Homo sapiens: one gene and its partners. The protein of the gene in region 1 purifies or fractionates together with the protein of each later gene. This does not show direct contact. Each region holds a gene or a part of one and is shown in the gene's direction. Other genes may lie near its edges. The genes, in order: RAPGEF5, DDHD2, CCDC88A and PPFIBP1.

What was found.
Region 2: the proteins of RAPGEF5 (region 1) and DDHD2 purify together in Homo sapiens (affinity purification with mass spectrometry; 2 studies listed by BioGRID and IntAct, with this or other methods). This does not show direct contact.
Region 3: the proteins of RAPGEF5 (region 1) and CCDC88A purify together in Homo sapiens (affinity purification with mass spectrometry; 2 studies listed by BioGRID and IntAct, with this or other methods). This does not show direct contact.
Region 4: the proteins of RAPGEF5 (region 1) and PPFIBP1 purify together in Homo sapiens (affinity purification with mass spectrometry; 2 studies listed by BioGRID and IntAct, with this or other methods). This does not show direct contact.

What each region holds. Positions count from the first base shown.
Region 1 is NC_000007.14:22,117,708-22,123,158, reverse strand, and holds the end of RAPGEF5 (rap guanine nucleotide exchange factor 5), read left to right. Parts: intron 1-637; coding exon 638-753; 3' UTR 754-4,923; downstream 4,924-5,451. UniProt on the Homo sapiens protein: Guanine nucleotide exchange factor (GEF) for RAP1A, RAP2A and MRAS/M-Ras-GTP. Its association with MRAS inhibits Rap1 activation.
Region 2 is NC_000008.11:38,248,585-38,255,616, forward strand, and holds part of DDHD2 (triacylglycerol hydrolase DDHD2), read left to right. Parts: intron 1-1,123; coding exon 1,124-1,219; intron 1,220-3,327; coding exon 3,328-3,444; intron 3,445-3,547; coding exon 3,548-3,703; intron 3,704-4,137; coding exon 4,138-4,240; intron 4,241-4,372; coding exon 4,373-4,543; intron 4,544-4,971; coding exon 4,972-5,134; intron 5,135-7,032. UniProt on the Homo sapiens protein: Diacylglycerol (DAG) and triacylglycerol (TAG) lipase required for proper lipid homeostasis in the central nervous system. It cooperates with PNPLA2/ATGL in neuronal TAG catabolism and hydrolyzes sn-1,3 DAG downstream of PNPLA2/ATGL.
Region 3 is NC_000002.12:55,332,827-55,339,858, reverse strand, and holds part of CCDC88A (girdin), read left to right. Parts: exon of another isoform or gene 1-210; coding exon 211-395; intron 396-3,040; coding exon 3,041-3,178; intron 3,179-4,694; coding exon 4,695-5,765; intron 5,766-7,032. UniProt on the Homo sapiens protein: Bifunctional modulator of guanine nucleotide-binding proteins (G proteins). Acts as a non-receptor guanine nucleotide exchange factor which binds to and activates guanine nucleotide-binding protein G(i) alpha subunits.
Region 4 is NC_000012.12:27,674,178-27,681,209, forward strand, and holds part of PPFIBP1 (liprin-beta-1), read left to right. Parts: intron 1-14; coding exon 15-44; intron 45-2,250; coding exon 2,251-2,422; intron 2,423-2,529; coding exon of another isoform or gene 2,530-2,597; exon of another isoform or gene 2,598-2,886; coding exon 2,887-2,919; intron 2,920-5,311; coding exon 5,312-5,462; intron 5,463-5,755; coding exon 5,756-5,884; intron 5,885-7,032. UniProt on the Homo sapiens protein: May regulate the disassembly of focal adhesions. Did not bind receptor-like tyrosine phosphatases type 2A.

The sequences.
Region 1 (5,451 bases):
GGGTAGACTTTAGTCCATACACATACTTTCTGAAGCTATTTCGTCTGTTAACCACATCTTAGAGTCTGTTCTGTTGTATCTGTTCATTCAGTTGCTCCATTAAATTTTTTTTTCCAAAAAATGAGAATACCAAAGAATTGTACAAAATCTAAACAACAGAAAAAGAGTGATTGCATTCATATGCTAAATACATTATCAGCGATTTTCAACGCTTCTAGACTGAGATATAGGACCCAGTGCTGGCCATTTAAACAGGTAACTGCTGTGAAAGGCTACCTAAAAGGGCTCAGGAACCATCTGTCCTGGGTCCGAATCCTGGCTGTGACAGTTAACTTGCTGCGTGACTGTGCTCAGTTTCCCCATCTGTGGAATGAGATAATAACGTAATTTCTAAATAATATACAATGTTAGGTAATAAATGCTATAAGTATCCTGCCAGTCTGATTGCCTGACCTGAGGAATCCATTCTGAGCTGAAAAAGCATTTCTACTGTAGGACAAGGACACCTCTTATGGGATTCTGACTAATGAGAACCCACCTAGTACATTTACTCAGCCTTAGTGTGGGGTTTTGTTGGTATGTAGATACAGCATTACTGCTCTCCTGAGATTGTCTTTTTTCCCCCTCTAAACAACAGGTGACCTGTCTCCAAAAGAGCATCAAGAGTTAAAGTCCTATGTTAATCACCTGTATGTCATTGACAGCCAGCAGGCTCTGTTTGAGCTCTCACACAGGATCGAGCCTCGGGTGTGAGCCCCACTGCCTCACCTCCCCTGTATCTGCAGCACTTTGAGCTACGGGAATGTCTATGCCAAGCACGTTGCTTTCCTGTGAGAAAAGAAGTTGCTGAGTTTTATCAGTATAACCCAAGACATTCACAGGAAAGCCAGCCAAAGCGTGTTCAGGAAGTGATGTCAGCCACCAGAGAGGGGGAGAGGTTTCTCCATGCTACTCTCGGGACAAGAAGGCAGAAGGAGAGTCAGAAGCATTCTTGAGATGGAGAAGGCTGGTTTCTTATGATCACATTGTTGATCCAGTCCAGTTTTCAATATGAGATGTGCCAGCATCAAGACAAGACAACGTCTTGACATGCAATGACCAAATATTTCATTAAGAGCGTGCATGAAACAGGAAGGAGTTTTTACTTTGCCTAGTTTTAGATTACTGTCCATAAGCTGTCAAAGAAGTCATTCTTTTGAACACCTGATGACAGAGACAGCATCTCTAGATCTCCAGGGAGGAGAGGTTTCTGTTGATACAACCTGTGACATCACCAAAAGCCACTTGTGTCTAGGGAGTTAGTGAGGACTGCAGCTAGCATCCATGCTCTGATGGGCAGATGAACAATGTCAAGGTGTGCATCACTTTGCACCACAATCAACTATTGACACATGCTTGCAGGTGAAATTAGTTTCTGTACAACTGATTTGCAGCTATAGGCAAGGTAGATGAAGTTGCTTTGCCAGTAAGGAAAAATAGTAATCTTTAAGAAATTGACTCATTGTTTAATTTCTGGGGATTTTCTTTATACTTCTAAGCAGGCTCTTATCTTTTATTGGACATAATATGATTTTGAAAAAGCACAGTGCCTGACACATTGCAAACACTCACCAACTGCTTGCTGAGGTGACAGAGTCACAAAAGTCTGCATTCTTGTGCCTGATGATGCATTTTGCGTACCTCATACAGGCTCCTTGCCCACACTATGGAATGACAGCAGCCAGTGCAGGGAGGTTAAGTGACATTTAATGAGTGAAGCACTTAGCACTCTCTAGGTAATAAGATAGTGGTAATTACTAGTGTTTTGGCAAATGAAAAATGCCCTGAAATAGCCAAATGTCTGATTAATGTTGGCAACTTAGAAGTCCTATAATCCAACTACCAGCCAAAGCAGGGAGCCTTTCTATAATTTGCCTTTTTTTTTTTTTTTTTCAAAATCTGAGTCTTCTAAAATCTTATTATTCCCATTTTTACCAATTGAGGCTCCTGTAGCAAATAAGACCTCTTGATATTTTCAAGGACTGGTTAGAGGATTTCTTTCAACCTTCACATGAACAAAACAGCCTATGGGTCAAAATAATGAAATCCACCCCTGCCTGCTAGATACTTGTCACCTTGCTAAAATGCAAGGGCCTGGTCCATTCATTTTCCAAATGCAGGAGTCTTGGTGCACTTCTCACTCTTCCTGCCTGTTCATCTCTTTCATGCCCACACAGACCTGTTTCCTTTTTGTCTCATCAACGCCTCATTCATCCTCATTACTGAGGCGTGTCCAATGCTTTTTGACATCTTTATAGCAGTGCTGTTTCCTGGGCTCAGGAACCACACTGAGCTTGAGATACTGCTGGAAGGAACCATGTGGAGAGAAGGTTTGGGAGAACTTTGAGAGAGACTTAGTTTGGCCCAGCATGTAAAACTTCAGTCCTGAACATTTATAGGGTTTTATAGAAGGGCATCCTCCAGGGCTGGTCCATTCAGAGAAATGCTGCATGCTGCCGTCATGGAATGTGGCCCACAGGACACCAGAGCCGTGAGAACCGGAGAGCAGACTTCCCTCACGGCTGGGCTGAGCAAACCCTCCAAAGCCCTCCTCACGCAGTTACTAACAATAGCATGGGCTTACAGCACAAGCACGTGTTCTCACCTTTTTCCTATGCCCTGGACTAAGGTTTGGCCAGTGTAATCATATAAGGCCATCCTGACATTGTTTCTGTGTTTCAAAATTTGGATTTTTATTTACATTAGAACTACATTGCTCCTAGTAGAACATTACCTTTAGGGGACTAATTTTCCATGGAGAACTATTTCAGCATATTGCATGCTGCTCAGACCCCAAGTCAGATATGCCCACCAAGCCAGATGAAGCTACACAAATGTGGTATTTAAATGCATTTTGTACAGTGACTTCAGAGTATCTCACATGACATGGGTGTAAACTGGCTGGGGAGAAAATGATGCTTGTTCACCTCTTCCTCCAGCCGTGGTTAGGTGGTCCTAGGGGTAGCAGAGGGAAGGGAGGATTTTGTGCAGTCAAGATTTGCTTTTCCATCCTTGTCTTCTGAATGTCTAAAATCTCTGCATCTTTCTGAAGTTTAACAACTGTCTCCAGAGGTTTGCCAGGCAGCAGCTCTCAGAAGTTTCCAAAGCTTTGCAGAATCTTAGATCTGGAATTAAAGAATTCAAGCCCGAATTGTGAGAACCAGATATTACTCAACAGAAAGCTCTTTCTAAGGAATCTGAGCTGTTCACTGGTGGACAGTGGTGGGGCTTGAGTGCTCCTTGTTAATAGGATGGGCCATGCACCCTCTCTGGATATTCACCAAGGCCTCTTCAGAATAGGGTTTGTTCTGGCTAGAAGCGTGGTCTAGAAGATGGCTAAGCTCTTTGCCAGCTCTCATTTGGAGTTTTATTATTGCATAAAATCTTCGCTCACTCTGCAAATCTTACGTAATCTGGCACCTTCGGCACCAGGTGGTGCAGGGGCACTTCTAAGTGGGCTCTTTTTGTTACAGCACAACTCTCAGACAGTCCTGTGGGTCTTTGGATTCGTCAGCATTCCAGCAAACTAGCCCTGCTTAGAAGTTAGCACAAGACAGCAGAATGCAGGACCCCGTAGGCAAAATCACAACCTTGCTATTAAAAAAAATTTTGTTTTACATACACATTTGCAGGTGTTCCCTAGAGTGTGGTGTTTTGAATTTGCTCTTTGTCATCTGTATAATTGCCAAATGATTATAGTGATACACATGACCTGCATTCACTTTTTTCTAGTTTCCTTAATTATGTTTAGAATAAATTCATTTCCCTAGACCGAGAACCACAAACAGGTAGTGTGGAGCATACACCGAATTTAGAAGCATGTGGATAAGGTCAGTGCTCACACTGCCTAGTCCACAGGGAGAGGATGCTGCATGAATATATACTTGCCTCTGAGTGGAGGAGAAATCGTGGCATGAAAGAGAGAGTACCAGTGATGACTTCTTATCCCTGGAGCTGGGCTTTCACTGCTACCCATATCCCAGCCCTGCGAGTCTGTTCTAGCCAGCACAGACACCGCAGATCCGGAACTGAATGTTCCTAAATGGCGCAGCCAATCCAGGCTTTTCAGAAACTGGGCAAAAACATTAAAATGGGGACGATCGGGTCTTCCGCAGTGGTCCAACACAGGATTTCTTTTAAATGTTTCAAAAACATGTCCTTAAAATTTCAGCCTGCTTCTTAGCGAGTGGGCCAGTTTTGCTTAAAACTGGTGGGGGGGCGGGGGGGAAGTTTTTAAAAATTGCCAAAAAGTTAGATGCAAATGTATTACTGTATAAAGCAAAGCTGTATATACTAAACATTTTTTAGCAGAGTAATATTTATTTGCATAGTCTATTTATTGTATTCGTATCACACTGTTATTAAATACTGGGATGAAATCAGTGACCTGAAGCAAGAAATCTTGCCTTTTAATGTATCATTAATTAGGGCTGCTGTGATATTGTCAGCTTGCATTAACAATTAGAAGATAGAGAACCCGCCATCAGGGTGTCTACCTAACTTCTCAGGGACTACACTTGGTAGTTTTCCACCATTTAAAGAACTGGTAAATATGAAACATTTGTTGAGTTACCAGAATTGCCATTAACAGTGTTTTCTTTCCCATATTCCATGCTTTCTGCCTCTGTGTATATATATAATATATATGTATATGACTGTGCTGTGTATTTATCGAAGCTAGTAAGCAATAATTTATATGTAAAAATGGCCAAGCAATATAAGGTTAAAACTTATATAAGTAACCCTTACCTTATCTTGTATTTTCAATTTTTTTTTAAAACTGCTTTTCCAAATATGAGACTATGTTAAAGACACTATTCATGCCTCTTAGTTTCTTGCTTTCTCTGTGATGTGTGTGGATTAAATAGCTCTGTTCTGGCAGCATATGATGCTCAGGGGGTTGGAACTCAGAAGTCATTTGCTCACTGAAAGAGCTACAAGTAGATGAAGAGGTTCTCAGGCAGCCCATAGAAGCCTAAATCACTTATCCTGCCATTGGGTTATTGCAGAACCTAAACACCCTATTTTGGAAATTGCATCAGTGTTCTCAGAGTCTGAAATCTGGGGAATCTGGCAACCATTGTCATTGCCTCACCCTACTTGAGCAGGACCAGGAACTGTCCCTCACCAGCCCAGATACTGAGTGCAGCTACCAGCCCAGTGGTGATGCCCGGGGCCCAGGATAGAGGTCCTGACAGCGGAAGAGCCATGAGTGGATGGAGCAGCACAGGGATAATAAGGATGCTCTGGGGCAGTGGGATGCCAGGCGGTATATACACTAGCGCAGACTGAGTGTTCAGCATCTTCTCTCTGTGTAAACAGGAAATTTGTACATCTTGCCCATCGAGGTCAAGTTTGGCCTTTGGCATGTGTCCATCTCCCCCTTGCAGGGGGATTATAAACCTCACCTTC
Region 2 (7,032 bases), on another chromosome or scaffold:
GGAAAAGTACACCGTGTTGTAAGAATTAACCTGGTCTCATAAGGTGCAGGAAGGCTTCCCTAATCAAATGAGTGATAGCTGGCTGGGTGTGGTGGCTCATGCCTGTAATCCCAGCACTTTGGGAGGCCGAGGTGGGCAGATCACGAGGTCAGGAGTTCGAGACCAATCTAGTCAACATGGTGAAACCCTGTCTGTACTAAAAATACAAAAATTAGCTGGGTGTGGTGGCACACACATGTAGTCCCAGCTACTTGGGAGGCTGAGGCAGGAGAATCGCTTGAACCCAGGAGGTGGAGGTTGCAGTGAGCTGAGATCACACCACTGCACTCCAGCCTGGGCGACAGAGCAAGACTCCATCTCAAAAAAAAAAAAAAAAAACGATGAGTGACACTTGAGATCTTGATTGTTAGTCTGTTCCATACTTGTGTGTTTGCTGTATGTTCTCAGTGCTTGCGTTCATCAGCAGGAGTATAATCCTTCTCAGGCATGTGACATCTAAGTCAGTATAGAAATCAAGGAAGTTTTTTTGTTTTGTTTTGTTTTTTTGAGACGGAGTCTTGCTCTGTTGCCCAGGCTGGAGTGCAGTGGCGCGATCTCGGCTCACTGCAAGCTCTGCCTTCCGGGTTCACGCCATTCTCCTGCCTCAGCCTCCTGTGTAGCTGGGAATACAGGTGACTGCCACTGCGCCTGGCTAATTTTTTTTGTATTTTTAGTAGAGACGGGGTTTCACCATGGTCTCCATCTCCTGACCTCATGATCCACCCGCCTCGGCCTCCCAAAGTGCTGGGATTACAGGCGTGAGCCACCGCGCCTGGCCAGAAATCAAGGAAGATTTTTATGTCCTGAAGTCCTTAGATACCCAACTTCTCTGTTTTTTTTTTTTTTTTTTAACAATAACAATGTCTATATTATTGTAACATTGATATTATAAGTATTGATATTTTCTATTCTTTTTTAGGCTGTTTCATGAATAAAACAGGTCCTTTTTTCTGGAAGTTATTCTATGATGTTTTACTACTAGAGAGACAGGCAGCAACAGAGTGCCTAGGCCTTGTTCCTCTTAGGGGACAGGATTGATTTTATTTTGTCTAGAAATAAGAAAGACTTGATTTTCTATGCCTAGGCTTTATGTACAGACCGAGATCTTCAGGAAATAGGAATTCCTTTAGGACCAAGAAAGAAGATATTAAACTATTTCAGCACCAGAAAAAACTCAATGGTATGTGCCTAATACAGCTTGTTGGACTAAACAATTCTTTGATGTCCATAGTGTGTCCTTGTGCTTTGTGGGATGTTTACTCTGGGGAGCCAAGCAGTTTTTTGGTAATTGATCTTTGGCTCTTTTTTTTTGAGACAGGGTCTCGCTCTGTCACTCAGGCTGGAGTGCAGTGGTGTGATCCCAGCTCATTGCAACCTCTGCCTCCCGGGTTCAAGCGATTCTCCTGCCTCAGCCTCTCGAGTAGCTGGGACTACAGGCGCCCACCACCATGCCTGGCTAATTTTTGTATTTTTAATAGAGACGGTGTTTCACCATATTGGCCAGGCTGGTCTCAAACTCCTGACCTTGTGATCTGCCCGCCTTGGCCTCCCAAAGTGCTGGGATTACAGGTGTGAGCCACCCGCCTGGCCGATCTTTGGCTCTCTTTCTAGAAATTAAACACATTTTCTTTTTTACATTCTTTTTTTTTTCTTTTCCTGGAAATGAAATCTCGCTGTGTTGCCCGGGGTGGAGTATAGTGGGTGGTCTCGGCTCACTGCAACCTCCACCTTCCAGGTTCAAGCAATTCTCCTGCTTCATCCTCTTGAGTAGCTGGGATTCCAGGTGTGCACCACCATGCCCAGCTAACTTTTTGTATTTTTAGTAGAGACGGGGTTTCACTATGTTGGCCAGGCTGGTCTTGAACTCCTGACCTCAGATGACCCATGTGCCTCAGCCTCCCAAAGTGCTGCACCGCTCCTGGCCCTTCTTTTTTTACATCCTTAAAAGTATTATTAGCTTCAGAAGTCTTCTCTCCTCTGGAATTCTCCTACCATTTATTTATTTATTTATTTTTTGCTTTTTTCTTTTCATGAGAGTTTTACCAATATCTACTTCACATCACATACCATAAAATTCACCCTTTTAAAGTTTACAATTTAATGGTTTTTAGTATATTCATAGAGTTATGTAACCATTACCACTATCCAATTTCAGCACATTTCCATTGTCCCTTAGGGAAACCCCATACCCATTTGCTGTCACTCCCCATTGCTCCCTGCCCCCAGCCTCTGTCAACCACTAATCTACTTTCTGTTTCTACAGATTTGCTTATTTTGGACATTCCATATAAATGGAATGTCCTTTTGAGCCATGTGTCTGACTTCTTTCACTTAGCATAATATTCTGAAGGTTTACCTGTGTTAACAGTACTTCCACATTCAGTTTTTCTGGTCACTGAATTTCTAACTCCATATCTTATTAGTTAGTTTTTTTCTTTTTGAGTCGGAGTGTTGCTCTGTCGCCCAGGATGGAGTGCAGTTGCACGATCTTGGCTCAATTGCAACCTCCGCCTCCTGGATTCAAGTGATTCTCCTGCTTCAGCTTCCTGAGTAGCTGGGATTACAGACACGCGACACCACACCCAGCTAATTTTTGTATTTTTAGTATGGGGTTTCACCATGTTGGCCAGGCTGGTCTTGAGCTCCTGACCTCAAGTGATCCGCCCACCTCAGCCTCCCAAAGTGCTGGGATTACAGGCGTGAGCCACCATGCCTGGCCAGTAGTTAGTTCTTTTCCAACTTTTTAGCAGGTGGCTCATTTCTTTTTAAAGACTCAGTTCTTGGCCCAGCCCATCGACATCCTACTTCCCTTGATTACAGAGGCACAGCACTTCATAGAACTCTAGCAATCCTCAGCATTATCTTCCCACAGTGCCCTGCTATTGTTTTCTCTTATGATTGTTGCCTAAAGTTTCAACGCTACTGAAATGGCTATGTACAACTTTCATCATTTTAGAGCATCTAAGAATGTCAATTAACAATTTAAGGCAATAATTTAATCTTGTTTTCTGAGGAAATCTTCCTAGAATTTTTGGCTGCCATTTCAGAACTTTCCCAAGGGTCCTTTCAAACCAGTAGAAAACTATATAATCCTTTGGCTATACTTTTACTATATAGTAGCTCCCCATACTTTTTTTTTAAATAGAGACTATGTTGCCCACGTTGGACTTGAACTCTTGGGCTTAAACAATCCTACCTACCTACCTACCTCAGGGTCCTGAGTAGCTGGGACTACAGGTGCATGCCGTCATGCCCAGCTTCTCCACATAACTATTTTTTATTCTTTAGGGTATTAAGAGACCAGCCCCGCAGCCTGCTTCAGGGGCAAACATCCCCAAAGAATCTGAGTTCTGCAGTAGCAGTAATACTAGAAATGGTGACTATCTGGATGTTGGCATTGGGCAGGTAACTAATTCTCTTTGATCATTTTACAGCCTGCTATTTGTATGGTAGAAACAGATGTAACTTTTGTTATTAATGAGAGATGCTTTTATTTTCCTCCTTTGAGGTGTCTGTGAAATACCCCCGGCTCATCTATAAACCAGAGATATTCTTTGCCTTTGGATCTCCCATTGGAATGTTCCTTACTGTCCGAGGACTAAAAAGAATTGATCCCAACTACAGATTTCCAACGTGCAAAGGTTTCTTCAATATTTATCACCCTGTAAGCATTGTACAGCTATTGTGGTTTTACCTAAATATCAGGGCTTATTGTTAAAGAACATAGGATTTTCTGTTGTGTTGATTTTTTTTTCCTATTCCATTGTCTAGCAATGAGACAACTTATAATAGTATTGATTTGGAAGTGATGGAGCAGAACTGTACATTTTTTTAAATGAACTTATGATTATTGTTTAAGATACATAGTTCTGGTTGTACATGGTGACTAATGCCTGTCATCCCAGCACTTTGGGAGGTCAAGGCAGGAGGATTGCTTGAGCCTAGGAGTTGAAGGCTACAGTGAGCCATGATTGCACCACTGCACTCCAGCCTGGGTGACAGAGCGAGACCTCATCTCAAAAAAAAAAAAAAAAAAGTTATATAGTTTCCAGACTGTGCTTAGCAGAGGTAAATGTAGCTCTTGTTTTTCCTATGTAGTTTGATCCTGTGGCCTATAGGATTGAACCAATGGTGGTCCCAGGAGTGGAATTTGAGCCAATGCTGATCCCACATCATAAAGGCAGGAAGCGGATGCACTTAGGTAAGTCCGAGCATAGAACTTGATAATTCTAGACCTTTTGGCCAGTGCAAAGGGCATCATTCACTCTGTTCAGCTATGTTGGACCCTAAGCTCTTTGTAAATCATTTAATGTTCTTTATTTATATGTTTCAGAACTGAGAGAGGGCTTGACCAGGATGAGTATGGACCTTAAGAACAACTTGCTAGGTTCGCTGCGGATGGCCTGGAAGTCTTTTACCAGAGCTCCATACCCTGCCTTACAAGCTTCAGAAACACCAGAAGAAACTGAAGCAGAACCTGAATCAACTTCAGAGAAGCCTAGTGGTCAGTGACACTGTACACATTGACCAGCTGCCAGATAAGAGGGATGCCATGGTGTGGCGTTTTTCATAGTTAATTTAATTTAATTTCACATTTAATTTCATAGTTAATATTGCATTCTTTTGCTTTAGTTTTCAACTTCTAAAGAGCTCTATTCCTGCTTGCATTTAGTATAAACCCAAGGCAAATGACCTAGCTATCAATGGTATAGGTAATGAGATGTGTTGCGCAAAAGCAAAAAAGGGGATTGGACAAAATTACTGTGACCTGAGAAGGAGCTTGAAGGAGATTGAGAGGAGGAAGATGGGAGAGAGCTCTCTGAACAGAGAGTAGCTCATTCTCTGGTAAACTTGGAGTGTGAGGAGAAGTTAACAGGATAACCCTGAAGGCCAAAAGGTTTTAGATTCTTATTATGGTTCTTCCATATCCAGATGTTAACACAGAAGAGACCTCTGTGGCAGTTAAAGAAGAAGTCCTGCCTATCAATGTGGGGATGCTGAATGGAGGCCAACGCATTGACTATGTGCTACAGGAGAAGCCTATTGAAAGTTTTAATGAGTATTTATTTGCTTTACAAAGCCATCTATGCTACTGGTAAATGTTGTTTATTTTTGTCTGTTTTGTTTGTTTACCTGTTTCATAGATATTTGATAGATGTAGAAAAAGGAGGATAGGCCAGGTGCATTGGCTCAGGCTTATAATCTCAGCACTTTGGGAGGCCAAGGTGGGAGGATTGCTTGAGTTCAGGAGTTTGAGACCGGCCTGGGAAACATAGCAAGACCTCATCTCTACAAAAACTAAATTAGCTGGGCGTGGTGGTATGCGCTTATAGTCCCAGCTACTTGGGAGGCTGAGGCAGGAGAGTCACTTGAGCCCAGGAGTTTGAGACCACAGTGAGCCATGATCACACCACTGCACTCTAGCCTGGGTGACAGAGCAAGACCCTGTCTCAAAAAAAAAAAAAGACCTGTGTACCTTTGGAATTAAAATGACTTCTCATTTAGACAGCACAAGCACAATCATGTCATTTCAAGAATCTGGTTTAAACACACTGTTGTTTTATTTTGCAGCTGGGTAGAACATGGTTGAGGCTAATGATGCCAACAACCATAAGTTCAATTATCTTGGTGTTAAAAATGTGTCTTTTGGCCATTTAGGTGCACATGAATGAACTGGAACAAATATTACTGTTGCTGGAAGTCTTATAGCAAACCCATTTGAAAGCATTTATGGTAGCTGTGACAGAATTAATTATTATTATTTTATCATTATTTGAGACAGGGTCTTGCTGTGTCACCCAGGCTGGAGTGCAGTGGCATGCTCATGGTTCACTGCAGCCTTGACCTCCTGGACTCAAGTGATCCTCCCCCCTCAGTCTCCCTAATAAGTAGGATGACCGTTGTGCACCACCATGCCCAGCTAATTTTTGTACAGACAGGGTTTCGCCATGTTGCCCAGGCTGGTCTAAACTTCAAGCAATCAATCCGCCTCCACCTCTGCCTCCCAAAGTGCTGGAATTACAGGCATGAGCCACCACGCCTGGGCAGAATTATTATTAAATATAATTGGTTACCTGATGGATTGTAGAATGGATTAATGATGCTTATTGAAATTCAGGCCGGGTATGGTGGCTCATGCTTATAATCCCAGCACTTTGGGAGGCCGAGGAAGGAGGATTGCTTGAGGCCAGGAGTTGAAGGCTGCAGTGAGCCATGATGGTGCCACCGCACCCTAGCCTGAGTGACAGAGCGAGACCATGTCTGAAAAAAAATAGTATAAAATAATACTAATTAATCCCTGAAGAAGTTGACATAAAAATAAAGTAAGGGAAATAAGATGGGTCAGAGATAAGTGTTTTAAAAATGAAAGCTCAGACCAGCATGGCCAACATGGCGAAATCCTGTCTCTACCAAAAATACAATTAGCCAGGTGTGGTGGTGCATGCCTGTAGTCCCAGCTACTAGGGAGGCTGAGACAGGAGAATTGCCTGAACCTGGGAGGCAGAGGTTGCAGTGAGCGAGATCACGGCCACCGCAGTCCAGCCTGGGTGACAGAGCGAGACTCCATCTCAAAAAAAAAAAAAAAAAAAGCAAGCTCAAAGGTCCTAAGAATAATTTTTCCCTTGAATTCTGATGAGGAATTATCATCTGATGCAATCACTATCGTTTGTATATAATATATACAGTAGAGGCCAAAAGCAATCTTGTAAGGGGCTAAAATAATGCTAAGAATGATCTCTGGTGATCTGGCTTGATAGAAAAGAAAGCAGAGTTCTTTTAATATTTCTGTGTGGGCAGTACATTCATATGGTTTGAAATTCAAAGAAAGAAAAATAATGAAAAGCCTCTTTTTTATTTTGTTTCTTGCAATCAGTTTCTTCCCCATATACAACTAATGTAAAATGTCTTCCAGCCATCTATTTTATGCCTCCATAATAAATATATGTATGTGAATATATTCTTTCCCTTATTTTAAAAACATAAATAGTAAAT
Region 3 (7,032 bases), on another chromosome or scaffold:
CCCCGTCTCTTTAAAAAAAAGAAAAAAAGAAAAGGAAAAAAAAGATTTACTTCTTTTATCTTGTTTATCTTATATAACCTCATTGAATTTTTAATAAAGTTAAGGATCAGATGATGCAATGCATATACACTCAACTTTTTAAATAGTAAAGAGTAAACATAGTAAAAACAGTAAAGAGTAAATACAATGGTGTATTTTTCAATATTATAGCACCCCAGAAATCCCTGGGCCATGAGGTGAATGAGTTGACATCAAGTAGATTATTGAAGCTAGAGATGGAAAATCAAAGTTTGACAAAAACCGTAGAAGAGCTTCGGACTACTGTGGATTCTGTAGAAGGCAATGCTTCCAAAATCCTGAAAATGGAAAAAGAAAATCAAAGGCTCAGTAAAAAGGTAAATTAAAATGTAGTGTTTATTTTAATGTTAAAAAAACTTGTAAAAGTGTAAATAAATAGCCCATTTATTTTCCACTTTTTAAATGCACGCTCAATGTTATTTTAACTTGTTATGAAAATTTTCAAATATACACAAATATGGTGTGAATGAACCCTATACTCATTATTCAGCTTCAGCAATTAAGAACTTACTAGCTGATCTTGGCCAGGTGCGGGGGCTCACGCCTGTAATCCCAGCACTTTGGGAGGCCAAGGCAGATGGATAACCTGAGGTCGGGAGTTTGTGACCAGCCTAGCCAACATGGTGAAACCCTGTCTCCACTAAAAGTACAAAAATTAGCCGGGTGTGGTTGTGGGCGCCGGTGATCCCAGCTACTCGGGAGGATGAGGCAGGAGAATCTCTCTCGAACCCGGGAGGTGGAGGTTGAAGTGAGCTGAGATCACGCCACTGCACTCCAGTCTGGGCCATAGAGCAAGACTCAAAATCTCAAAAAAAAAAAAAAAGAATAAGCAGGGCTAGAGGAGTTACATTTACCAGTTTCCAAATAATGAATTGGTTCTCTCATATCTTCTTGAGAGAACTAGTGAGTGAGTTTCTTTAGTGTCATTATGAACCCATGAATTTAAAAATATTTGTATTGTTTCAATCCACTGCATTTGTTTTTCTTACTGTCTCAACTCGGGCTAGTGGAAGCCTCTTTAAAAGCTGCTTTGGTCCTGAATCCTTATGACATGGCCTTAGCACTCCTTAAGAGCTTTCTTGCTTTCTGCCATGACAAAATATTCTAGGCTCATCTTGAACATTTTCTGTCCCAGACCTGGAGACAGCCATTTCTCTGAAATTAGCCCTTATTCCTTTTAGTGGGAAATGATATTTAGAGACCACAATTTAGGCATTATGAAACCTGAATCTTAATCAGACTCTGGTTGAACAGAAATATTCAGTTGTGCAAGAACAAGTGTTTTATTTTTGCATATCTTTCTGCACACATAATTCTACATAAATAGAATCCCATCATAAAAACATGCATGATTAAGAATTGTTTCTAAGAAGTTCCTAAGTGATGCTCATCCTGCTGTCCTGGAATCATGCTTTGAGAACCACTGCTTTAGATTATTCAGAGGCTCCTTAGTATTCTTGTAAGATTTTTACTGTTTAAAAATGTTTTTACATTGTCTTCAGTCCATTAACTAAATAATCTTAATAAGCGTTTGACAATATAGTGTTAAAGTAGGATGACCATTTAGAATTTAGAACAGTTTTATTTTGGTTGTCATTAAAATTGGGCCTGTAGAGTACAGTTTCTTTTTGAAATTAGCTTTGAAGTTTAATATGTAAATTCTTAGTGATTCAAGCAATTTTTGATTAATTGTAAAAATGATTTTTTTATAAACTGAATGTTTCACTTTAATCCCATTGATACAAAACAACAAATGAGTTTCAATAATTGTTATTCTTATATTTCCATCTATGTAATGTGAGAACCTGATTAATTATTCACAGCTGAAAGCTTCCTGAACTGTAAATTAATGTTGAATTGAGTTATTGGATAAGTTTTTTGACCTGATGCTTTTCATATTATTATTATTATTATCATCATTATTATTGGTAGTAGTATTTCGAGCTAGGGTCTCACTATATCACCCAGGCTGGAGTGCAGTGGTGCGATCTCAGCTCACTGCAACCTCTGCTTCTCAGGCTTAAGCAGTCCTCCCACCTCAGCCTCTCAAGTAGCTAGGACTACAGGCACAGGCCACCATGCCTGGCTAAGTTTTTTTGTTTTTTGTTTTGTTTTTGGTAGAGACATCGTTTCACTGTGTTGCCCAGGCTGGAAATATTATTGGAAGATTGTTTCTGTGTGTAGTTATTTCCATTAATGTTAAAATAGAAAAATTAAAATTGCTTTAGAGTGCTTCATTATTGACATAAGAATTTAACATTTAACTTGCAGTAGAATGTTTTATAAAGTCTTCTTGATTTTTTAAATTGCCTGGTTTGAATATGTTATATGATAATGGGAAAATCAATAGTCTTAGCATATTTTTAACTTTAATTTGCTATTTTGTACATATTAACTACCAGTATTTTTCATCTCTAAAATGCGTAATTGAAAAGAAATTTGAACCTAAAATATAAATATTAGCCCTTTTTTATGGTAGTATTTTTCTCCTTTTTTATCTTAAAGGAAGTCCTTTCTTTTTTCATTAAGCTTATACTGTACTGTTTATCATCTTTTCCTTCATGCTTTTTATATCTTCTCCTGCCTTCTTGCTCACTGAAATTCTCTGAGTATAAGTAAAATTTTACTTTACAAATCCACTCAAGCCAAGTGAATCTTTAAATAAAGTTTGTATAGTTCTCATATAGCATATTATCATTTATTGAGCTGGATTTGTCTTTGTGTTTAGAAAGTGAAATTTACCCCAAAAGATGCACAAGGATAAGAAATCATGTCTGCATATTTTATACAGCTACAGAAATTAGCATGGAATGCTACTTGAATTTCTATACTAATTTCTTAAATTTTAGCATTTGGATATTAACACTATTTTATCCTTTATTCAGCGATTATGTTTTGTTTTGACATGTTTTCACTGTTACAGAATATTTAACGTATTGTTTTGTGATTTAATTTTCTCTAGGTTGAGATTCTTGAAAATGAGATTGTTCAAGAAAAGCAAAGTCTTCAGAATTGTCAGAATTTAAGCAAGGATCTAATGAAGGAGAAAGCTCAGCTTGAAAAAACAATAGAAACACTGAGAGAAAATTCAGAGAGACAGGTTCATACATTTTTTACTAAGTAAACAATGTATTTTAAAATTTATTAGCAAAAGTTATTTAAAATATATGCAAACAAAATGTTCATATAAACATTAAAGGGAAATATTTTAGAATTTTTTTATTTTAAAGTAATTATAATTTTACCTCATTTTCTAACCTATGTGTCTTAGGAAAGTTGAAGAGAAAGCTTAGAGTTTTTTAAACTACCATTGTGCTTAATAATCATCTAGTATAAGCATTTGCAGTACTTGTGCTTTCAAGTGTCTGTGGAATAGGGCTGCCGATTCTAGAGTCCCTGAGTGGAGTTGGCCAGGAAATGGAGCTGTCCTCTGACCTACCAAAGAGGGAGAAATGTGGTGGCAACCACACTGTCTTGGATATTACCAAATTTGTTTTCAGCTCTTTAATGTTCATTCTCATTTTATGTTTGAGGAAACTGAGAACTGCATAGATTAATTGACTTATTTTTGAAATATTTATTTATTTGAGACAGGGTCCAGCTCTGTCACTCATGCTGGAGTGCAGTGGCACAATCATAGCTTACTGCAACCTCGAACACCTAGGCTCAAGCAATCCTTTCACCTTAGCTGGGACTACAGGCATGCACCACCATGCCCAGATAATTTTTTAATTTTTTTTTTTATTTTTTGGTAGAGACAAAGTATCACTATGCTCCCCAGGCTGGTCTCAAACCCCTGAGCTGAAGTGATATTCCTGCCTCAGCCTCCCGAAGTGCTAGGATTATAGGTGCCAGCCACCATGCTTGAGCATTAATTTTTTTAGAAGTTAAATTATTTGTTTATATCATCCAGGTACAGTCCTCAGACCAGCCATAAAAATGAAGGTTTCTTTAGAGATACAGAACCAAAATTCTAGACTAAGCTTCAATCTTCATTTTTCCAAGCTTGTTGAGATTATTTAACACACTAAATTTTGAGAATCATTGTATTAGATCACGCTATAAATTGGATGAATTAGTTCCCAAATGTACCCAGTGATTTTTGTGATTTTGATGCTTCCTACTTAGAATTCTTTTTGGGAATGAATACACACACATACAAACCCATATATACACATGTAATACAGCACATATTTACTGAGGACCCACTGTAGGCATTGCAAAGGTTACTTAGTAAAAGTAGAACCTTATGTTCTCAAGGAGGTATGTGTGTGTGTTACCTGTATTCCTATTTGAATTTGAAGCATGTAACTGTAAATAATCTGAAGACCATTATGATTAATAGAAAATACATTTCTCAACCGTTCCTTTAAACTGTGAACTTCCTAAAAACATGAACTTTAATGACCTCACAGTAAGTGTACACAGTGGTCTTCAGTAAATGACCTCACAGTAAGTGTACACAGTGGTCTTCAGTAAATACTTGTCAGAATTAAAAGTAAGACATGTTCTAGCACCCTTTTTTTGTTCCCCTTTTCTTGGTAGTTTTTGGAAGAGATAAACCATAGTTAGTTTTTCCTCAATTACAGCTTTTAATTATTTTCTTTTCAAATTAGATTAAGATACTGGAACAGGAAAATGAACATCTGAATCAAACAGTGTCTTCCTTAAGGCAGCGGTCCCAGATAAGTGCAGAAGCAAGAGTGAAAGACATTGAAAAAGAAAACAAAATTCTTCATGAATCTATCAAAGAAACAAGTAGCAAGCTAAGCAAGATTGAATTTGAAAAAAGACAAATTAAAAAAGAATTGGAACATTATAAAGAAAAAGGAGAACGAGCTGAAGAACTTGAAAATGAATTGCATCATCTTGAAAAAGAAAATGAATTATTACAGAAAAAAATAACTAATTTAAAAATTACTTGTGAAAAAATTGAGGCCTTAGAACAAGAAAATTCAGAGCTAGAAAGAGAAAATAGAAAATTAAAAAAAACATTGGATAGCTTTAAAAATCTGACCTTTCAGTTAGAATCCCTAGAAAAAGAGAATTCCCAACTTGATGAGGAAAACTTAGAACTGCGAAGGAATGTAGAATCTTTGAAGTGTGCAAGCATGAAAATGGCTCAGCTACAGCTAGAAAACAAAGAACTGGAAAGTGAAAAAGAGCAACTTAAGAAGGGTTTGGAGCTCCTGAAAGCATCTTTCAAGAAAACAGAACGCTTAGAAGTTAGCTACCAGGGTTTAGATATAGAAAATCAAAGACTGCAAAAAACTTTAGAGAACAGCAATAAAAAAATCCAGCAATTAGAGAGTGAACTACAAGACTTAGAGATGGAAAATCAAACATTGCAGAAAAACCTAGAAGAACTAAAAATATCTAGCAAAAGACTAGAACAGCTGGAAAAAGAAAATAAATCATTAGAGCAAGAGACTTCTCAACTGGAAAAGGATAAGAAACAATTGGAGAAGGAAAATAAGAGACTCCGACAACAAGCAGAAATTAAAGATACCACATTAGAAGAAAATAATGTGAAGATTGGAAATTTGGAAAAAGAAAACAAAACCCTATCCAAAGAAATTGGTATATATAAAGAATCTTGTGTCCGTCTGAAAGAACTAGAAAAAGAAAATAAGGAGCTTGTGAAAAGAGCAACTATTGATATAAAAACGTTGGTTACACTACGTGAGGTAAATATGTTTACCTAAATTAAGGCAAATTTTTTTTTATATTTTTAACTCAAGGTTTCTTTAAGTTTTATTGGAATCTATCAGTAATTTGCATCATTTATTTTATGGTTCAGTAGAATTTTGGAATTAGAACTAGAAATAGCTTCCAAGTTTCCTACTTTGTTAAACTAAGAAATACCTATAAATTGTATTTTTAAAAGAATTTGTAGTAATAAAGTTTCCTAGTGGTATCTGACTTATTACATTATAATTTTAAACCTTTATTTCAATATAATAATGTTTGATCAAGACACTAAATTCTAAGTATAATAAAGAAGCATGATAGCTACTATTTATTGAGTGCTGTGTGCCAAGTACTGGGCTAAAAACTTCATATAAGTTGTATATACATAAATAATATATACACACACACCCAAATATATATACACACATATATACATGCACATAATCTTTACAACTAATCCTTTATAAGTATTATATCCATTTTTTAGATGAGAAAACTGAGGTTCAGAAACATTAAATAAATTAGGATCACACAGCTAATAAATAGCAGAGTTGGATTACTGGATTCAAATCCAGATTTTTCAGACTCCAAAGCCCCATGAATTTTGACCTCAAAGCCAGAGAATGCAAATCAGGTTCAACCATTCAACACTGAGCAACTAGTATTTGCTTGAATCTATGTATCAAGAAGAATTCTGAAACTTACAGGAGTAAATTGGCAGTATGTCCTGTGAAACATGGTTGATGCAAGTCAGAAGGTATATGTTTGGCTCTTTTTTTCCCATCTCTAAGCATTATAATATGTGATAACCCTTTAAGTTCAATTTAAAAGTATATTAGCATTCTGGCAGAAGGTCACATTGGGCAGTCTGCATTTCTGCTAAAGAAGCATTGAGAGGGACCTTTTATTTTTTTCTTCTGTAGACTTATAAACATGAACAACAAGTTCCTTGTGCCTAAACTTCTAAGAACATCCTCTAGTTCTTCAGATCAGTATCATAGGGCCTCTTTCACTGGGAGAAGGGATCTTGTGGGAGAGAAGTATTATAGTCAACATATATTTATAAGAAGAAATGTGCACTAAAGTTCAGGCTCATTATTAAAAAGTAAATGGATATGATTTTCCCCAGTTTTCAAACCTAAATGTGTATTCACAAGTAAAGAGTTACTACTCCCTTTTAAGGTTTTGTTTAAAGTATTAGCAAAAAAAAGGAAAAAAGTTATTTCAACTAGGTTATAACTTTAACTACATTTTAATAATGAA
Region 4 (7,032 bases), on another chromosome or scaffold:
ATTGCTTTGAACAGGAAAAGGAAACTATTCAGAAGACTTCAGAGGTAACTTTTTGTCCAAATTACAATGCAAAAATATTTCTACTTCCATTACATGTAAATTGCTTAAATGTCTCCAGTAGATAAAAACTTTCAGAACCTCTAGAACATTATGCTAAATGAAGCCAGACACAAAGTTCACATATTATATGATTCCGTTTATGTGAAACATCCAGAACAGATAAATCTATAGAAATAGAATGCAGATCGGTGGTTACCAGTGGTAAGAGGTGGGAAAAATGGGGAGAAGCTGTTTAAGGGTAAGGGGTTTTGCTTTCGAATGATGGAAATGTTTTGGAAGCAGGTAGAGGTGGTGGTTGCACAACATCGTAACATACTAAATGCCACTGAATTGTGCACTTTAAAATTGTTAATTTTGTTATGAATTTCACTTCAGTAAGTTATTAAAAAACAAAACCATAGTCTCTCAGTCATGCTACTTAATGTTCCTAATGACCATAACTGAGCTTCCTTAGACCTCCCCAAAAGCCCTTCTTAGATTACCATTAGATTATACACCCGGTGCCCATCTAAAGCAAACATTTTGGTATGTTTAAAGATGTCGTCAACATGTGCTCAATTCTTCTTTCCCCTGATTTTTTTTTTTTTTTTTTTTTGAAATGGTATCACTTTGTCGTCCAGGCTGGAGTGCAGTGGTGCAATTATAACTCACTGTAGCCTCGATTTCCTGGGCTCAGGTGATTTTCCCACTTCAGCCTTTCAAGTAGCTGGGATTACAGGCGTGCACCACCATACTCGGCTGTTTTTTTTTTTCGTTTGTTTTTTTTTTTATTTTTTATTTTTTAAGTACAGATGAGATCTTGTCATGTTGCCTAGGCTGATCTTGAACTCCTGAGCTCAAGTAATCCTCCCACCTCTGCCTTTCAAAGTACTGGGATTACAGGCATGAGCCACTGTGCCTGTTCTGTCCTCTGATTTTCTGTCATTAACCTTGTGAAGATTACAGCCTGATAGGCTACCTCCAGATCCAGTCTCTTGACTGTTGGCTCTTAGTGCCTGAGTCATATGTGGATAGAATTGACAAAGCAGCCAGTGGTGACAGCTATAATTAAAATCCTTGTTGTCTTTTCAGTTCAATAAATGGTTAAATGATTTTGACGTCATTGTTGAGCCATGGATGATAATATCACTAAATTGTGCCATCTGTAAACTTTTGGTTTCTATGAGCTGTAGATATATAGAGTAAAATAACCACCTAAAATACCTATATCCCCTCACCCTTTTCTCTGCTTCTGTAAAAAAAGAAGCAGAGGGCAAGAATTATTTCTACTTCTGCAAAAAAAAGAAGCAGAGGGAAAGAATAGAGAAATGAAAACAAGAAGACAAAAGTATCTTTGTATAAAGGACACCCACTTCAATAAATGGTGCTGGGAAAATTAGATATCCATATGTAGAAGAATGAAATTGGACTTCACCTGTCACCAAATCAACAAAAATCAACTCAAGATGGATTAAGAACTTACATATAAGACCAGAAACTATAAAACTGCTAGATGAAAACATAGGGGAAACACTTCATGACATTGATCTAGGCAAAGCATCTTTGTATAAATACTAAAATAATATACTGTGTTACAGCTGGCTCTAATTGCCCATTCAAAGAACCAAAAAGCTCAAAATAAAGTTGCTCACTGTGCCTTCATTTTCTTATTCTTTGAGGAGAATATTTAAAATAACTGGAATAGAATCTCCTTATACTGCTGGTATAGAAGTTTGAACTAATGCCTGCTTTGTAGAATAATTAATATTATATTAGGCTTCTATTGACAAAGTTATAATATAAGAATATGAACTGTATTATAGCTAAATCCGTGACATAATTGTTAGAAAAGTCAGAAATCTGCTGCTATTATTCTGGTTATGTAATGTCTCCATGTCTTTTGAGGAATGAGGCAAACAAAATTTAAGAATTTTTGTATCCTAAATATTTAAAGCCCTAGACATATCGATTCTAGATTAGTGATGAACATGTTTTCCTTGTTGCTTTTGTTGTTGTTTCTTAAGTAGCTTTCAGAATTGATTTTTTTTCAACTTCTGATAAGGCATTTGACATTGGTGATCAATGTATTAGTTCAGTTATTCTTTTGAATAAACTCATGGATGTGGCGTGAGTGAGTATTTGCTGTTAGCCTGGCATGTGCTGAGGATGCTGCACCTGAGAGCTGTTTCACTATTCTTATTTGCCTCTCAGGACAGAGCTCCGGCAGAAAGCAGGCCATTTGGGACCCTTCCTCCCAGGCCCCCAGGGCAGGACACCTCCATGGATGACAACCCCTTCGGCACTCGAAAAGTCAGATCTTCCTTTGGCCGGGGCTTTTTTAAAATCAAAAGTAACAAGAGAACAGCAAGTGCACCAAACTTAGGTACGTATGACCAAAATGCCTTTGCCCTAATTCTTCCACAAGGAGGAAAAGAGCAGTGTCTTCCCTTCCCTTACTCTTTCATTCATTGATTCATTTCTCTTTCTCAGAAACGAAGGTGAATGACTTAGGGGAATTTAGCAAAAAATGCCTCCGTGGATTTAATTTAGTGTTGTGAAGATATATAGACTCTCACCCTGCTCTCTCCTGTGGTATAAACTTAGCGGAAAGACCTAAAATCATGATTCCCTTTGACTTCATCATGGAGTTTCCCATCTGTTGTGATAGTGGATAAATTAACATTGACGTTGAGCCTGTGTGTAACATCAGAAGCACTGTGTGCCGCATGCCTCTCCTCCACGGTGTGTATTTGGCGAGGAGGAGTCTGATCTGCATTTCATTTTGTCATCTCTGTGTTCTCTCCATTGGGCTGCGTGTGATTGTGTGCGTTGTTGGGATATCTGAAGATCGTAAACGAAGTGCCAGTGCACCCACCCTAGGTATTGTACCCCTGCATGCCAGCCTTCACCAGCACTGTGCTCCAAACCAATCTAATCCCTGCTCTTGGCATCTGTGATCTCTAGAAAGCGATCTGACAGCAATCAGAAAATGTAGTTCTCTATTCCGGAGTGTTCTTTCCACCTTCTGCTAAAAAGGACTCTGTAGAGGCTTTGCTTCCAAGCCTAAATGCTGTTTTAACCAATACTAGTAACACTCACTGTGTGAATAGCTTTGAGAGGACCTAGACGTGTGCAGCATCCCTCAGAGTGCAGGGCAGGAATGTCCTGGCATTGTACATTGCAGCTCTTTCAGCCTTGAAGTGCATATTACCACACACTAACTCCCAGGTCCTTGCAGTCCGTTCTCCATGCTTACATTTCCCCCAGCCTCCAAAAAGAAATTTTTTTGGCCATATAGGGAGGTTTATAGAAGACATTGAATATTATAGTTTTAGGCTTACTTCTCTTAGGGGAACATTCTTCTGACGTTTTATTACTTTGAAGATGGAGATAATATTTAGTGATGACAGAAGCAACTTTACTTGATATCTGAGGCGTTACCCCCCAAAGTGATTTTAGAAGAGGGGCAGCTCAGTTTTCCTCTTTGTAAGGCAGGGGACAAATGGGGAAAAAAGTTCTCAAAATAAAAAAGAGAAATATGGTAGTTTTAAGATGAGGATAAGCTAGGCAGCATTTTCAGGGGCACCTGTAGCCATCGTGGTTGAAGGATTTGAATTGGGAAAGTTCCTTTGGGTTTTTCCAAAAGGTGCTGTTACCTTGTATAGATATCCACCTATCTATTCACATGGACCAGCAAACGGGACTTCTCTCTCTATCGATATAAATGTCTAGAATGAACACTGGATGCATAAAATAAACTGATCTGTTCAGACAACTATTTTCAAATAGTTTTTTTTTGCATCTTTCTTAGAAGAACTGTTTTGTTAATGCTAAGAGGTAAATGCTGCTTATTATAACCTATAATCACAGCTCTGCTTTGTAGAAAAATCAACTTTCTGCAACTCATAGATCTTGCTGAAACACTGTTCTTGTGATTTTAGTACAACTTTTACTTTCTTTTATAAAGTATAAAATCTCACACTGAAGACAACAGTAGCCCTTGTGTTTGCTAGTATGGGATTGTCCACTAAGGGACAGCTAAAAGAACTGAAATAGTTAATGCTTGGAGATCTGAGAGTGGCAACTGTGGATGTGATTCTTTTAAGGTAAAATCAACAGGCACTTACTTTATGTCAAAAGAAAAATTAGGCATATCCAGTTCATTCTTCTCTCAGTGCCTAGGATTTAATAGATTGGAATACATTTCAAAAATAAAGAATTGCTTGAACTGGGTAACTGATTTGATGTAAATGCCAAAGGAGAAGGAGTAAAAGGAAAATGACATAGAGTCTGAGCTAGAGTAACAGGGACAGTATTAATTAATATTAACCAAATATCAAATAAGAACATTTAAGAGACGAGGCCAGGCGTGGTGGCTCACGCCTGTAATCTCAGCACTTTGGGAGGCCGAGGTGGGTGGATCACGAGGTCAGGAGTTCAAGACCAGCCTGGCCAAGATGGTGAAACCCTGTCTCTACTAAAAATACAAAAATTAGCCAGGTGTGGTGGCGGGTGCCTGTAATCCCAGCTACCTGGGACACTGAGGCAGAGAATTGCTTGAACCCAGTAGGCGGAGGTTGCAGTAAGCCGAGATCATGTCACTGCACTCCAGCCTGGGAAACAGAGTGAGACTCTGTCTCAAAAAAAAAAAAAAAAAAAAAAAAACATTTAAGAGAGAAAAAGACTCTCGGGGAAATTGGATGAGTTTGTGAAGTCCCAGATGTCCCGACACACTGAATTGGGAATATCACAGGCATTTAGATACAGAGCCTAGAGAGAGAGATTAGGCCCAGAGATTCTGATCCTCTAGAGGGCATTTAGAATATAATCTTAAAGTGGCATGGGGGAAGAAAAAAAAGCAGGGGTGCTACAGCAAAGACACTATCAGATGACAGATGTAGGAGAGTGGTCATGTCAAGAAGCAAAAGGAGATGATTTTGAAGGATGTAGCAGGTAATCAACAGTACCACGTGCTATGGAAAGATTGGGAATAATTCCATTATGAATTGAAATCACTCAAGGAAAGAATGTGGCAATCCTATCACATTCTTTTAATCTCCAAAGGGCTTGTAATTTTATTAAGTTTACACACAGTAAACTATGGAGCAGAACGTATATGTGTGTTCCATTTCTAATATTTACAAGGTGCTCTTTGTAAGTCACTGATTATAGACCAACAGAAGAATTCTTAACAGTTCTAGAACCAAGAAGATTAACATCATGTTTATTCCATATTTTAAAATTCATTGTCTGCATTCTGCTCTTGGAGTAGCTGAAACAGAAAAAGAGACAGCAGAGCACCTAGATCTGGCTGGTGCTTCTTCTCGGCCAAAAGATTCACAGAGGAACAGTCCCTTCCAGATACCGCCTCCATCTCCAGATTCCAAAAAGAAATCCAGAGGTATCATGAAACTCTTTGGAAAGTAAGTAAAGCAGTAAACAAGTGGAATGGGCCCTGTCTTACATGTTGCTTAAAAGTGGCTGGACATGGGTATGGACTTTGTAAGGCCTTTGTATTCCTCTTATGGAAGGAAGTTTGGATTGTGATGTGGGATTTATTAACTCATTGGGTCTTAGTTAAAGTTTAAATTTAAATGTCTATGTTAACAACACAAAGAGGATTAGTTCCAGTAGGTGCACTAGTTAAAAATGTTCTGATTAACAAGTCTAAGGCCTCCTCAGGTCTAATACTGGCCATGTGTGTTGTCTTCTTTAGACTTAGGAGAAGTCAATCAACTACATTCAACCCAGATGACATGTCTGAGCCTGAATTCAAAAGAGGAGGGACAAGGGCAACCGCGGGGCCCCGATTAGGTTGGTCTCGAGACTTGGGACAGTCTAACAGGTAAGAAGAGCCAACTGATAGACTTTTGCATCTCTACCAAGCATCATAGCCTCATGAGTCCTGCAGTATTAGTACTGTCATTGGGTTAAACAAAGTCATTGCTTAATGCTGTGCCTAATGAAAGGGGCCATCATCTTTAGAGCCGTGCAATTTGTCAATGGTTGATGAACAAACAGAAGGTGAGGGCTGTGCGAACTAGGGGAGAGGCCAGAGCTAAAGTGTCAGCAGCATCTGTGTTAGAATGGCTCTCAGACTTAAATTTTACGTAGATGGTAATTACAAGTACTCTAAAGCATAACTTTGGAAAGATGGGATAGCATAGTGGTTAAGAGTATGTTCTAGAATCAGACCACTTGGATTTGCTTTCTGGCCTTACCACTTTCTACCAGCTGGGTGACCTTGAGCAACAGCTTCCACACCCTGTGCCTCAGTCTCCTCATCATCATAATTAGTACCTACCCCAAAAGCTGACCATGAAGGTTAAATAAGTTAATATGTGTTAAATATTTGGCAGATAATAACTACTCAAGAAACATTAGCATGTAACAGAATCTATGAAAGCACTTAAAGACAAAAATGCTATCAGAATCCTTGTATTTATCAGGACTATATAATATTTTATCCATTAAGATTCTAAGAACTGCTCTGACACTCTTAACCAAAGTTTAGGGCTGGCTTAGAACTACTACATTGACTCACTGTGCATAAGAGGGTGGGGTTGGCAAACATAAAGTACAAGACATTGATACCAAATCTTTTAACAGTATAATAGACTGACTAGAAACCCTTTACATATAGCCCCTCCCATACAGGTGGAACACTGGACATAGGTTACATCAAGGAGGAAACTCTCTTTGGCCTTCTTCAAATACCAAACAGTTTCATTTGCCATATGTTGTCTTTGAACACAGTAGAGCTCCTTGTACTATTTAAAAAAAACCATTCATCTTCCCCTCCGCACCCTGCCCCCACCCCGGAACAAGAACACTATTTGTGTATCTAAGTAAAAGAAAACAGGAATTTTGCTTTGATTGTTTCCTACACTCAGTGACAACATATTGCCCTCTTCTCATTGGTTACCATATGGAAAGAAACCATAATTCTGCTAAAGTTAGTTCAAATTAGACTTAAGTTTCTTTCAGTCCAAC